Regions from separate parts of the Homo sapiens genome. Here region 2 is linked to region 1. The links come from fine-mapping of genetic effects on gene expression. A gene starts in region 1. The other region holds a variant in brackets. All regions are shown on one strand. Distances are from middle to middle.

Region 1 (5,363 bases):
CCGGCCATTACAGGGCTCCTGAAACCAAAAGGAATTTGAGATGCTTATGGCTGCATTTGGAATTTCTGCTCACAACATAAGCACGAGGAGCCTGACTCAGTGCGTCGGGGGCAGGAAGCACCAACCTGAGCATTGACATCAGCACCCAAGGACACCAAAAGCTCCACGATGCCCAGGTAGCCATGGATAGAGGCTAAGTGTAGACACGTGTGGCCTGGAAGAACAAAAGGAAAAAAGTATAACCACCTGTTTCAACCCTCACTCCTTTCACCTATTCTTTTATGGAACAAGTAGTCTTATCTTCTGAATTTTAAGAACCCACAGTCTGGGTTCTGAAAGAACTTTATAAAGGCATCCAATAGGCACTTTGCACACATATTTTCTCAACCTTCCAAATGTTAGGAGTTTAAGCTCTTGCCTGGACTCCTTAAGTTGGCCCACCTGCCCCTTCTCCACGTCACCTGCCCTCCGAGGGGGTGGGGCAGGGCAGGGAGGCAGACATACCATTGTAGTTGGTAGCCTTCAGGATGGAGTGGAGGTGCGGGGTGGTGCAGGACTGAGTCAGGACTCCCACGCTGGCCAGGCAGCCCTGCTCACAGGCAAGGTGTAGGGGGGTATTTCCTCGAAAGTCTCGGAGCTCAGGATCACAGCCAGCTCCCAGAAGTGCCTCAGCAATTTCTGGCTGGTTGGTGATCACAGCCAAGTGGAGTGGAGTCTACGAATGCAAGAGAGACCAGAGAAAGTAAGCCATGGACCAAACCCACACCCCGAGTTCCCCTCAACCCGTGTCTCCTGGTTGGGTGCTGCTCCTCCTAGACAGGGGGGTGGGGAGGGCTGGCAAATAGCAGAGGCTCCAGGTGGGTCATAAAGACCTCACCAAATCAGTGGAATTTCCTTCACTCTCTAGGATGTGGGCTGATGTGAAGTAAAAGGTGAGGGTAAATAGTGCTCAGTGGCCCTGAATTCAGAAAGGATCTGGGGTGACTCTGCTACATCAGCTACGTCCCAGGGTCAGAGAGAACCCGGGCCAGGCAAGCGGCGCACCTGCTGCAGGTTGTTCTGGAAGTTGAGGAAGGCCAGGTCTCCCTTCACCTGGCGGATCACTTCCATGGTCAGTGCCTTTTCTTCATGGATGATGGCCAAGTGCAGGAACCTGTGGGGAAGAGAGGGAAAAACCCCAGGGGTGGTGAGTGCACCGCGTGGGGCCCAGGGAGGCGCGGGCTGCGGGGGATTGCGCAAGGCCGGGGTTTCTGGAGGCCGAGGCCGCGGTGTTTTCCGCGAGGTTATTATGAGCTGAGTGTTCCTGGCAGGCGCCCAGGGACTTTCCGCCCCCCTCCCCCCGCGGCCCCGGCGGGCGCCGGCCAGACCGCCCCGCCCTCCCGCCAGCTCGGAACGCCCTGTACTTCCCCTCCCGGCTGCTCGGCGCCCGCCAGCGGCCAGAAACTCCCGCCCCGCCTTATGCAACCGGGGACTTCGCGTCCCCGCTGCCGCCCCGCCCCCGGCCTAGAGGACGGGTCTGGGGGGAGGGGGCGTGTGGCGACGCTGCCATCCACCAGGGCCCAGCCGCCGCCCCTCCGAGTTGGGCCGGTGCCCCGCGCGGCCCTGCAGCCCTGCAGCGTTCGGGGCGGTGCAGGAGCCCCGGGGTGCCGCGGCGCCCGCCCGGCTGCATCGCTGGTCCCCCGGCTCGGGCTCCAGGCCCGGCGCCTCCCACCCCCAGGCCGCGCGCGTCCCGCCCTCCCGACGACCCCCAGCCCCGGGCCTCCGCCACTTACGAGTCCCCGTCCTCGGTGAGCTGCTGCTTCCAGGGCTCCGAGCCGCGCGGCACCTCCTGCGGCTCGAGGCGGATCTCCTGCAGCTCCTTGACCATCTGCTCGTACTCCTCGTCTTTCATGGAGTCCAGGCCGCTGTCGTGGCGGTCGTCCAGTAGCCGCTCCTTCTTCAGCCCGTCGCGGGGGCCCTCCATGGCCCACTCCTGGGGGCGCTCGGCCGCCTGGAACATGGCGCGGACGAGCTGCGGGCGCTGCTGCGGGTGCGCTGGGCCGCGGGCTGCGCGCTGCTTCCTCGCTGGGGCGCTGGCGGGCGGGACGGCGGCACGGACTGCTGTGGGCTCTGCAGCGCCGCCGCGGCGCCCTATAAACGCTGGCTGGGGATTTCTCTGGGGCGGGGTCAGGCTCGGGGAATTTCCAAGCCAGTCAGACCAGAAAAAGAGAACTGGCTTCGTCCTCTGCTAGGGGGAAAAAGAAGCCTAAACCCTGAGCTGGGGTTCATCGGAGAAACTCCCTGCGATGAGCCACTAGGGTCACGGACAGGGAACTTTTTGATGAGCGCCGAGTGGCTGGAAAGTCCTTCCGACCAGGCCCCCTCCCCCCGGTACTTCCCTGCAGCCTGCACCCTGTAATCCTGTCCCTCTGCAAGTGAGCCTTCTTTCCCTGGGGTTTCCCACGATCGATTTGAATTGGGGTCGTCGGCTGCTGAGATCCCAAGGACGCCGACCTGATGGGCGGTCCCTCTTTGGGGTTTGCCAACCTGCCGGTCCTTTCCGTTTTTTGATCTTTTGAAAACGCAAGAGTGGAAATGATGGCTGGGCGTAGGGATTTGCTTTCCCCAGACTTCTAAGGGGAAGGACGCACTGTGGTTAGGGGGCTGCAGGCCGCGCCGGTGTTTCTGCCTATACCAGGCTCTTTGCAGCAAAGGAACTTTTAGCTTCGCCCCCACCCCCCCACGCACCCCCGCCAGGTAGAAGTTGTGAAAGCTTTGGAGGAGTGAAAAGCCTAAATCCTTGGAGAACTCTCAAATCACTTCCTAGGGATGAACAGCCCTGTTGACTGGGGGAGGGGCAAACGCTCCCTGTATGGGGAAACTGCTGAATAGGACCATGATTTTTTTTGTTTCCCAAGTAAAGCAAGGTGTTAATGTTTGTAGTGGTGGTTGTGGATACCTTGCAATAGCAGAGTAGCTATTGTGTTCATAAGTAGCTATTCGTTTATGCTATCTGACCTACATTGTGCTCCCGCAGAAAAAGGATCGTGAGCCTACTTCTGGGCACCCAAATTCGAGGAGAACTTAGAGAAGGAGGCTGAAGAATGAGTTTAGTTAGTGCCTTAACCGCGATTGGACCTTAAGGACCACTAAGAAAGTAGTTGCCAGGCATCCTGCGGGAGGCTCAAGGTAGTCCCATCCTGCCCGCCCCTCCTTGCTCTCTTGTCCTGGGGGACAGTAGCAGTTGGACCCATTCACGCCACCTGGGTAGAAAGGGGTTTCGGCTCACTATGCTCTGGTTTCACCTGCAGAAATATAATTTATGCTCTCCACTCCACCTCCACCTCCAAGCCTGCAAGCCATGGACTGAATTCATCTACTTGGTAGAATTGGTACAGGCAAAATAAAGCAAACTTCGGTCAGAGCTCTTCAGAATTAGTCCCAGGAGGCCTCTGTAGTTCTGCAGAGATTTCTGGTGATTATTGCAATCATCTTTACCTTGACTGGCCTTGTACTAACCAATCCTTCCCCTCTCTTCGTATCTCCACCCCTCCCCTAATATTAGAATGAAAGAAATCTGACTCGATAGAGAGAGACCAAGTATGAAGGGAAAAAAATTAAAATCAGATAGACCCTCCAGGGTAATAATGATCACATGTTACAATGAAAACTTCCCAGGGATAGACACCATTGTCTCTGCAGGTTTATGATATGCAAATCTACAATGATTGAGGCAAGGTGAAACAGTGACTGCAATGGGACATCTCAATTCCAGGTTCTATCTTTACTTGACTGCACATTAGTTGGAGAGGTCAGTTAACTTTTTTGTGGTATACTTAACTTTTATAATAAGATTAGATTGAATGTTACTTAAGGTCTTTTCTAGCTTAAAAGTCATATTGCTTGTCTACAAATGCATGCCTAACTCTCCTTTGTAAGGGTGACCATGGCTCTTGGAAATGTCAGGGTATAAATTTTTGAAAGAATTCCAGCGCCTTATGTACCACATTGTTCTCAGAACTAATCTTGTAAGATAGATATTGTTCCTACTTCCCTAAAAAGAAACTGAAATGCATAGAAATTTACCCAGGAACCCCTTGGCAGTATATTAATCATTTGGCCAAAGCAGTCTTAGTATTAACACTTTTGAAAACACGCTGTGAAAATCAGACTGACTACACTATAATTTGGAATGTACTCAAAAGTATTTTCTACTCCAACTGTTAGGGAAAATAAAGGGTGGGTGTCCCCTGACCCCCATCTGGGGATAGTCACTTCTTTTAAACAAGTACAGAAACATCAAACTCTAAATGTCCCAATTATAGAGGATACATCAGAAGAAGATATTTGGCTTCAGGTATAAAAATGGTTATAAAAAATAAAAATATCTGAGGAATAAGGTTTTTTTGCACCACCTTCTATGGTTTTATATTTCTGGTAGCCTTCAGGATCTTGGTGTTTATTCCTGATTGTTTTGTGTGACACCTAGTGGTAAGAGTAAGGCACAGGCGTTCCTTGATTTGTCATAGTGCCTTTTGCAAAAATTGGGAGGTGCTGAGCCTTGATGACTTGTCCCTACAGTGGAGATTTCCAAGGAGGTACCTATTGTTTTCCTGCGACTCTGGGAAACAGTTTTGAATAATGTGATCCAACAGGTTTTCTCCCCATCATCTATAGCGCTATATGGTTTAAGTCAACAAACATTACAACGTGGGTGAAAAAGAATATACACTTGGAAATTAGAACCATGAGCAGACTGGGCAGAAGACAACAAGAGGGTCTGGTTTTGATTTAGAAAGACCTTTATGGGCCAGGAGTTGTGGCTCACTGCTGTAATTTCAGCACTTTGGGTTGCTGAGGCAGGAGGATTGCTTGCCACCCAGGAGTTGGAGACCAGCCTGGGCAACAAGGCTAAACTCTTGTCTCTACAAAAAATATAATTAGCAGAGTGTGGTGGCAGGTGCCTGTAGTCCCAGCTACTCCAGAGGCAGAAGTGGGAGAATTGCTTGAGCCTGGGAGGTGGAGTTTGTAGTGAGCCATGATGGCACAACTGCACTCCAGCTTGAGCAACAGACTGAGACCCTGTCTCAAAAAGAAAAAAAAGAAAAAGAAAGACCTTTATGGACCCTTCAGCACTCAGATTTTTCTCCTCCTCATTGTCAAACATTCTAGCTAACATAACCGTTAAAAAAAATGTTAAAACTGTAGGCTGTGCGCAGTGGCTCACGCCTATAATCTCAGCACTTTGGGAGGCTGAGGCAGGTGGATCATGAGGTCAGGAGTTCGAGACCAGCCTGGCCAACATGATGAAACCCCGTCTCTACTAAAGATACAAAAAATTAGTCGGGTGTGGTGGTGCAGATGCTGCTTAGGAGGCTGAGGCA
Region 2 (5,374 bases), 310 kb before region 1:
AAAATGAATGAATGCTTCCAATGAAAACATAATGATGACAATACTAAAATTATAAACTACATAAATAGTCCAAATGTGGTCTCAGTTCGTAATGATTTAAATATCAGTTCAGAACAAAAAGCAAACACTTGATTCAAATAGTACTTCATTAGTTGCTTTCATATAAAATTTCATGTAATACAAATGACTATCTCATAATTATCTGGTAATACGTAAATTAAAGGAAAAGATAACCTTGACATCTTGAAATGAAACAGGATCTTGTCCATGGATTTTCATTAGTTCCTGTATGGCCTGTATTTAATAGAAATAAATCTGTAAATAAAAAATGAAATACACAACATCCCTCTTTTGCCCTACAACCCCTTTCTACTTATACTTCCTTTCCTATCAGGCCACAAACCTCATCATTCTCTCTCTTGCCAATCTTCTTAGCTTTCTTGACCTTATTCCACATCAGTGAGCAAAACCTAAATTCTCGATTAGTGTATTGACCTTTTTAGACCTATATCTTAACTATTGAGAACTTCAGGAAAAAAAATAAAAAGATTACGGATTGCTGCTTCTACATAGGAATGTTCTCCAACCTCAAACAGGCCCTCAGCATGGCCTCACAATTATTCTGTTTGATCTGCTCCTCTCATTTTCCATGAATGTTATTCCTGCCTTCACTATTCTCTTAAGATCCCCAATCTACTGTCTCCCTTCCTACCCTACACTTTGCTTTCTACGTAATACAAGAAATGGAGGTAGACCTCCCAAAACTCTTCCTTTTCATAAACTTTAACAAAAAAATGAAGAAACTGCTGTCATCCAGTAGGAATACAAAATACTTCAGGTGAGCATTATTCACTGGAAATGTGAAGTTTCAAATTCTTGGTGAACAGTCAACTTTGTTCCCGATGCCTACTCTGTTACCACTAATAATCAGAGTATCCATAAAGGAATCCCTTTGAAGTAGATAAGAATCTGAGTACATGCTCTGTTAATATAGTAATAGATGGTATGATCTAGAGTGAATCATCCAGACCCAGCTTTATCATTAGGATAGTGATGTCCAAACGCTCTGTGAACAGCCCAGGATTATAGGGCTCAGCATTGGACACTTTTTACCTTATCCCATATAACCAAGCCTAAATAAGCTTTGACAAAATGCCTATATGAAATATTTTTAAAGTAGTTTTAAAACAATTTAATATTCTAAGAGTAGAAAATACTGTAAAGAAATCTTTATGAAAAAGAGCAGTGTTTAATTTCAAATACATTTATTTTCTTAAGACTGGATTTTTACCTAATAGGTTTGTCTAAAGTAGGGGCATTCCTATGATGGGTTGGTATTTATTTTCTCAGATGAGCCGCTGATATAAGCCCATATAGCATTCAGTTTTTTTAATTTTTATTTTTAGAGATAGGGTCTTACTCTGTCATTCAGGCCGTAGTGCAGTGGCAAATCATGGATCACTGCAGCCTTGACCTCCCGGACTCTAGTGATCTTCCCACCTTAGCCTCTCAAGTAGCTGGGACTGCAGGCATGTGCCACCACACCCAGCTAATTTTTAATTTTTTTGTAGAGATGGAGTCTCCCTATGTTGCCCAGGCTGGTTTCCCAACTCCTGGGCTCAAGCAACCCTCCTTCCCTGGCCTCCCAACGTGCTGGGATTAGAAGCATGAGCGACCACGCCTGGCCTAAAAATTATTTTCATGGTTTATTTCAACATAGCAAATAAAAGTATCTACAACTGGCTGGGCACAGCCTCCCCAGTAACCGGGACCACAGGCATGTGACCACTACACCCAGCTAATTTTTTAAATTTTTTGTAGAAGTTGGGGTTTCCCTGTGTTGCCCAGGCTGGTCTCAAACTCCTGTGCTCAAGTGAACCTCCTGCCTCAGCTTCCCTAAGTGCTAGGATTACAGGTGTGAGCCACCATGCCTGGGGTATGATTTTTTAATTTTTTTTTTTCTTTTTGAGACTCAGTCTCGCTCTGTTACCCAGGCTGCAGTGCAGTGGCGCAATCTCGGCTCACTGCAAGCTCTGCCTCCTGGGTTCATGCCATTCTCCTGCCTCAGCCTCCCGAGTAGCTGGGACTATAGGCGCCCGCCACCACGCCCGGCTGATTTTTTTGCATTTTTAGTAGAGATGGGTTTCACCATGTTAGTGAGGATGGTTTTGATCTCCTGACCTTGCGATCCGCCCACCCTGGC[C/T]TCCCAAAGTGCTGGGATTACAGGCATGAGCCACCGCAACCCGGCCGATTTTTAAATTTAATAAAAGCATTTACATAACAGATTTCAGAAAGAAATCAAGTTTTTAGTTTTCTTTCCTACTTAAAAAAATTGAGTGAAAGCTGATTTGACTAGATGTAAAATAAAAATATGTAAATATACGTCAGGGGCTGTACTACCATTGGAAATACAAATATGTGATAAATTCTATACTTGTGATGAAAAACTTGTAAGATGCTAAGCAGTTCAGAAAAGGTAGCTCCTTTCCACAGAAATTTTTATAGACTTTGGTAGTTGTAGTTTTTTTTTTTTTTTTTTTTTTGAGACCGAGTGTTGCTTTGCTGCCCAAGCTAGAATGCAGTGACGCGATTTCAGCTCACTGCAACCTCCGCCTCCTGGGTTCAAGTGATTCTCCTGCCTCAGCCTCCCAAGTAGCTGGGATTACAGGCATGTGGACCCAGTTATTGGGGAGGCTGAGTGGGAAGACTGCCTGAGCCCAGGAGTTGGAGGTTGCGGCGAGCTATGATCATGCCACTGCAGCCTGGGCGACAGAGCCAGACCCTTTCTCAAAAAAAGAAAAAAATAAATAAAAATCACGAGTTAGGTAAAATGGTTACTAAATATTTAATTTAAACCAAATGATATATCTTTAATTTGCTCTTCTTTTTCTAATTTCCTAAAGTAGATGCTGATTTTAGATCTTTAACATTTTCCAGTATATGCATTCAATACTATAAATTTCCCTCTAGCCACTGCTTTTGCTGCATCTCACAATTTTTTTTTTTTTTTTTTTTTTGAGACGGAGTCTCGCTCTGTCGCCCAGGCTGGAGTGCAGTGGCACGATCTCGGCTCACTGCAAACTCTGCCTCCCGGGTTCACGCCATTCTCCTGCCTCAGCCTCCCAAATAGCTGGTACTACAGGCACCCACCACCACACCTGGCTAATTTTTTGTATTTTTAGTAGAGACGGGGTTTCACCATGTTAGCCAGGATGGTCTCTATCTCCTGACCTTGTGATCCACCTGCCTCGGCCTCCCAAAGTGCTGGGATTACAGGCGTGAGCCACTGCACCGGCAGCAACAAAATGATATATCTTAAGGAACAATGACTCACTTATGCAAATGAGACTTACCCTAAAGAAATAATTAAGTGAAAAGACATTCAGGTATCCTTTGTTCTCAATATCAAGCAGTTTGAAAATATATTGTAGAGCTGCAGGTTCCTTTCTGTTTTCTAATGCAAGGACAAAGTCCAAGTAGGTCTTATAGTCCTACAGAACAGAAAATAATGTTCATTAGAGGCCTTAGTTGAAATTAACTTTCAAGTGAATATCTTATGATTTGAAGCTATTTTGCAATCAAAGGTGGCAAATTTAATTTTTTCCCTAAGTTATGATATGAGAAATCCATTTATATACTTAATATTGGTTTCTAGGGAATTTTTTTCGAGACAGAGTTTCACTCTCATTGCCCAGGCTGGAGTTGCAATGGCACAATCTTGGCTCACCACAACCTCCACCTCCCGGGTTCAAGCAATTCTCCTGCCTCAGCCTCCGGAGTAGCTGGGATTACAGGCATGTGCCACCATGCCTGGCTAATTCTGTATTTTTAGTAGAGATGGGGTTTCTCCATGTTGGTCAAGCTGGTCTCGAACTCCCGACCTCAGGTGATCCGCCCGCCTCAGCCTCCCAAAGTGCTGGGATTATAGGTGTGAGCCACCCTGCCCAGCCATAGGAATTCTATATATAATCTACACAGGACAGTTTTGAGGACATAGTTCTTTTTTATTTATTTATTTTTTTGAGACGGAGTCTTGCTCTATTGCCCAGGCTGGAGTGCAGTGGTGCAATCTCAGCTCACTGAAACCTCTGCCTCCCAGGTTCAAGCGATTCTCCTGTCTCAGCCTCCCAAGTAGCTGGGAATACAGGTGCACACCACTATGCCCAGCTAATTTTTATATTTTTAGTAGAGACAGGATTTTCCATGTTACCCAAGCTGGTCTCAAACTCCTGACCTCAAGTGACCCGCCTGCCCCGGCCTCCCAAAGTGCTGGGATTATAGGCATGCACCACTGTGCCCAGCCCTAGTTCATTTTTTTATGAGAGATTTGCTGTGTTAAACTATAATTTTCTTTCATTATTCTTGTTTTTGAGACAGGGTCTCACTTTATCAACCAGGCTGGAGTGCAGTGGTACGATCATAGTTCACTGCAACCTTGATCTCCCAGGCTCAAGCAATCTTCCCACTACAGCCTCCGAGGCAGCTGAGACTACAGGTACACGCCATCACACTTGGCTAATTTTTTAAATTCTTTGTAGAGATGGGGTTTTCCTGTATTACCCATGCTAGTCTCAAACTCCTGGGCTCAAGCAATCATCTGGCCTCGGCCTCCCAAAGTGCTGGGACTAGAGGGATGAACTACTGCATCCTGCTTCAAACTTTTGAAACAGATGACTAAGCTATAAACTTATAACTTCATTTCAGTGCAGTTATTTTGAAAAACAAATTTTTTATCTGGAATGAACAGAACAGTATAATTTTTTTTTTGAGATGGAGTTTCGCTCTTGTTGCCCAGGCTGGAGTGCAATGGCGCGATCCTGGCTCACCACAACCTCTGCCTCCCAGGTTCAAGTCATTCTCCTGCCTCAGCCTCCTGAGTATCTGGGATTACAGGCATGCACCACCACGCCTGGCTAATTTTGTATTTTTAGTAGAGAAGCGGTTTCTCCAAGTTGGTCAGGCTGGTCTCAAAACTCCCAACCTCAGGTGATCCACCCACCTCGGCCTCCCAAAATGCTAGGATTACAGGTGTGAGCCACCGTGCCCAGTCTCAGAACAGTATATTTAAATTGCTATTTTAAAATATTGTTTAAAATTTTTAATTCAGATTTCCAATAAGAAGCTGTCTTGAGATTGCCAGACATTTTACAGTGAGCTGACACTGCTCTCATCCATAAAAAGGCAAAATGGAAAGGCCAGAAAGACATGAAGAGAACAGAAAGCCTTCCCTATAAAAACAGGATACGCACTTCGGGGGGCCGAGGCGGGCAGATCAGAAGGTCAAGAGATCGAGACCATACTGGCTAACACGGTGAAACTCCGTCTCTACTAAAAATACAAAAAAAAATTAGCCGGGCATGGTGGCGGGCGCCTG

What was found. PIP is the estimated chance that this variant, and not a neighbour inherited with it, causes the effect. A credible set is the group of variants that fine-mapping cannot tell apart.
Region 2: its variant is the best candidate, but not a certain one, in a credible set for the expression of NFKBIA in whole blood (INTERVAL, PIP 0.68).

What each region holds. Positions count from the first base shown.
Region 1 is chr14:35,402,646-35,408,008 of GRCh38, forward strand. NFKBIA (NFKB inhibitor alpha) reads right to left here and starts at 2,104. Exons shown (of 6, transcript NM_020529.3): 1 at 1,773-2,104; 2 at 1,045-1,153; 3 at 505-715; 4 at 126-214; 5 at 1-18. The coding sequence starts at 1,999. RefSeq lists enhancers at 1-345, 596-905, 936-985, 2,090-2,961, 2,166-2,565 and 1 more and silencers at 1,186-1,775, 1,926-2,095.
Region 2 is chr14:35,087,717-35,093,090 of GRCh38, forward strand. It overlaps PPP2R3C (protein phosphatase 2 regulatory subunit B''gamma), which reads right to left. Exons shown (of 13, transcript NM_017917.4): 11 at 3,354-3,491; 12 at 235-294. All of the region lies in intron 1 of LOC101927178 (a long non-coding RNA gene), which reads left to right. Among named protein-coding and RNA genes, the nearest start is that of PRORP-PSMA6, 31 kb to the right of the region's middle. The variant C/T (reference allele first, on the strand shown) is at 2,204.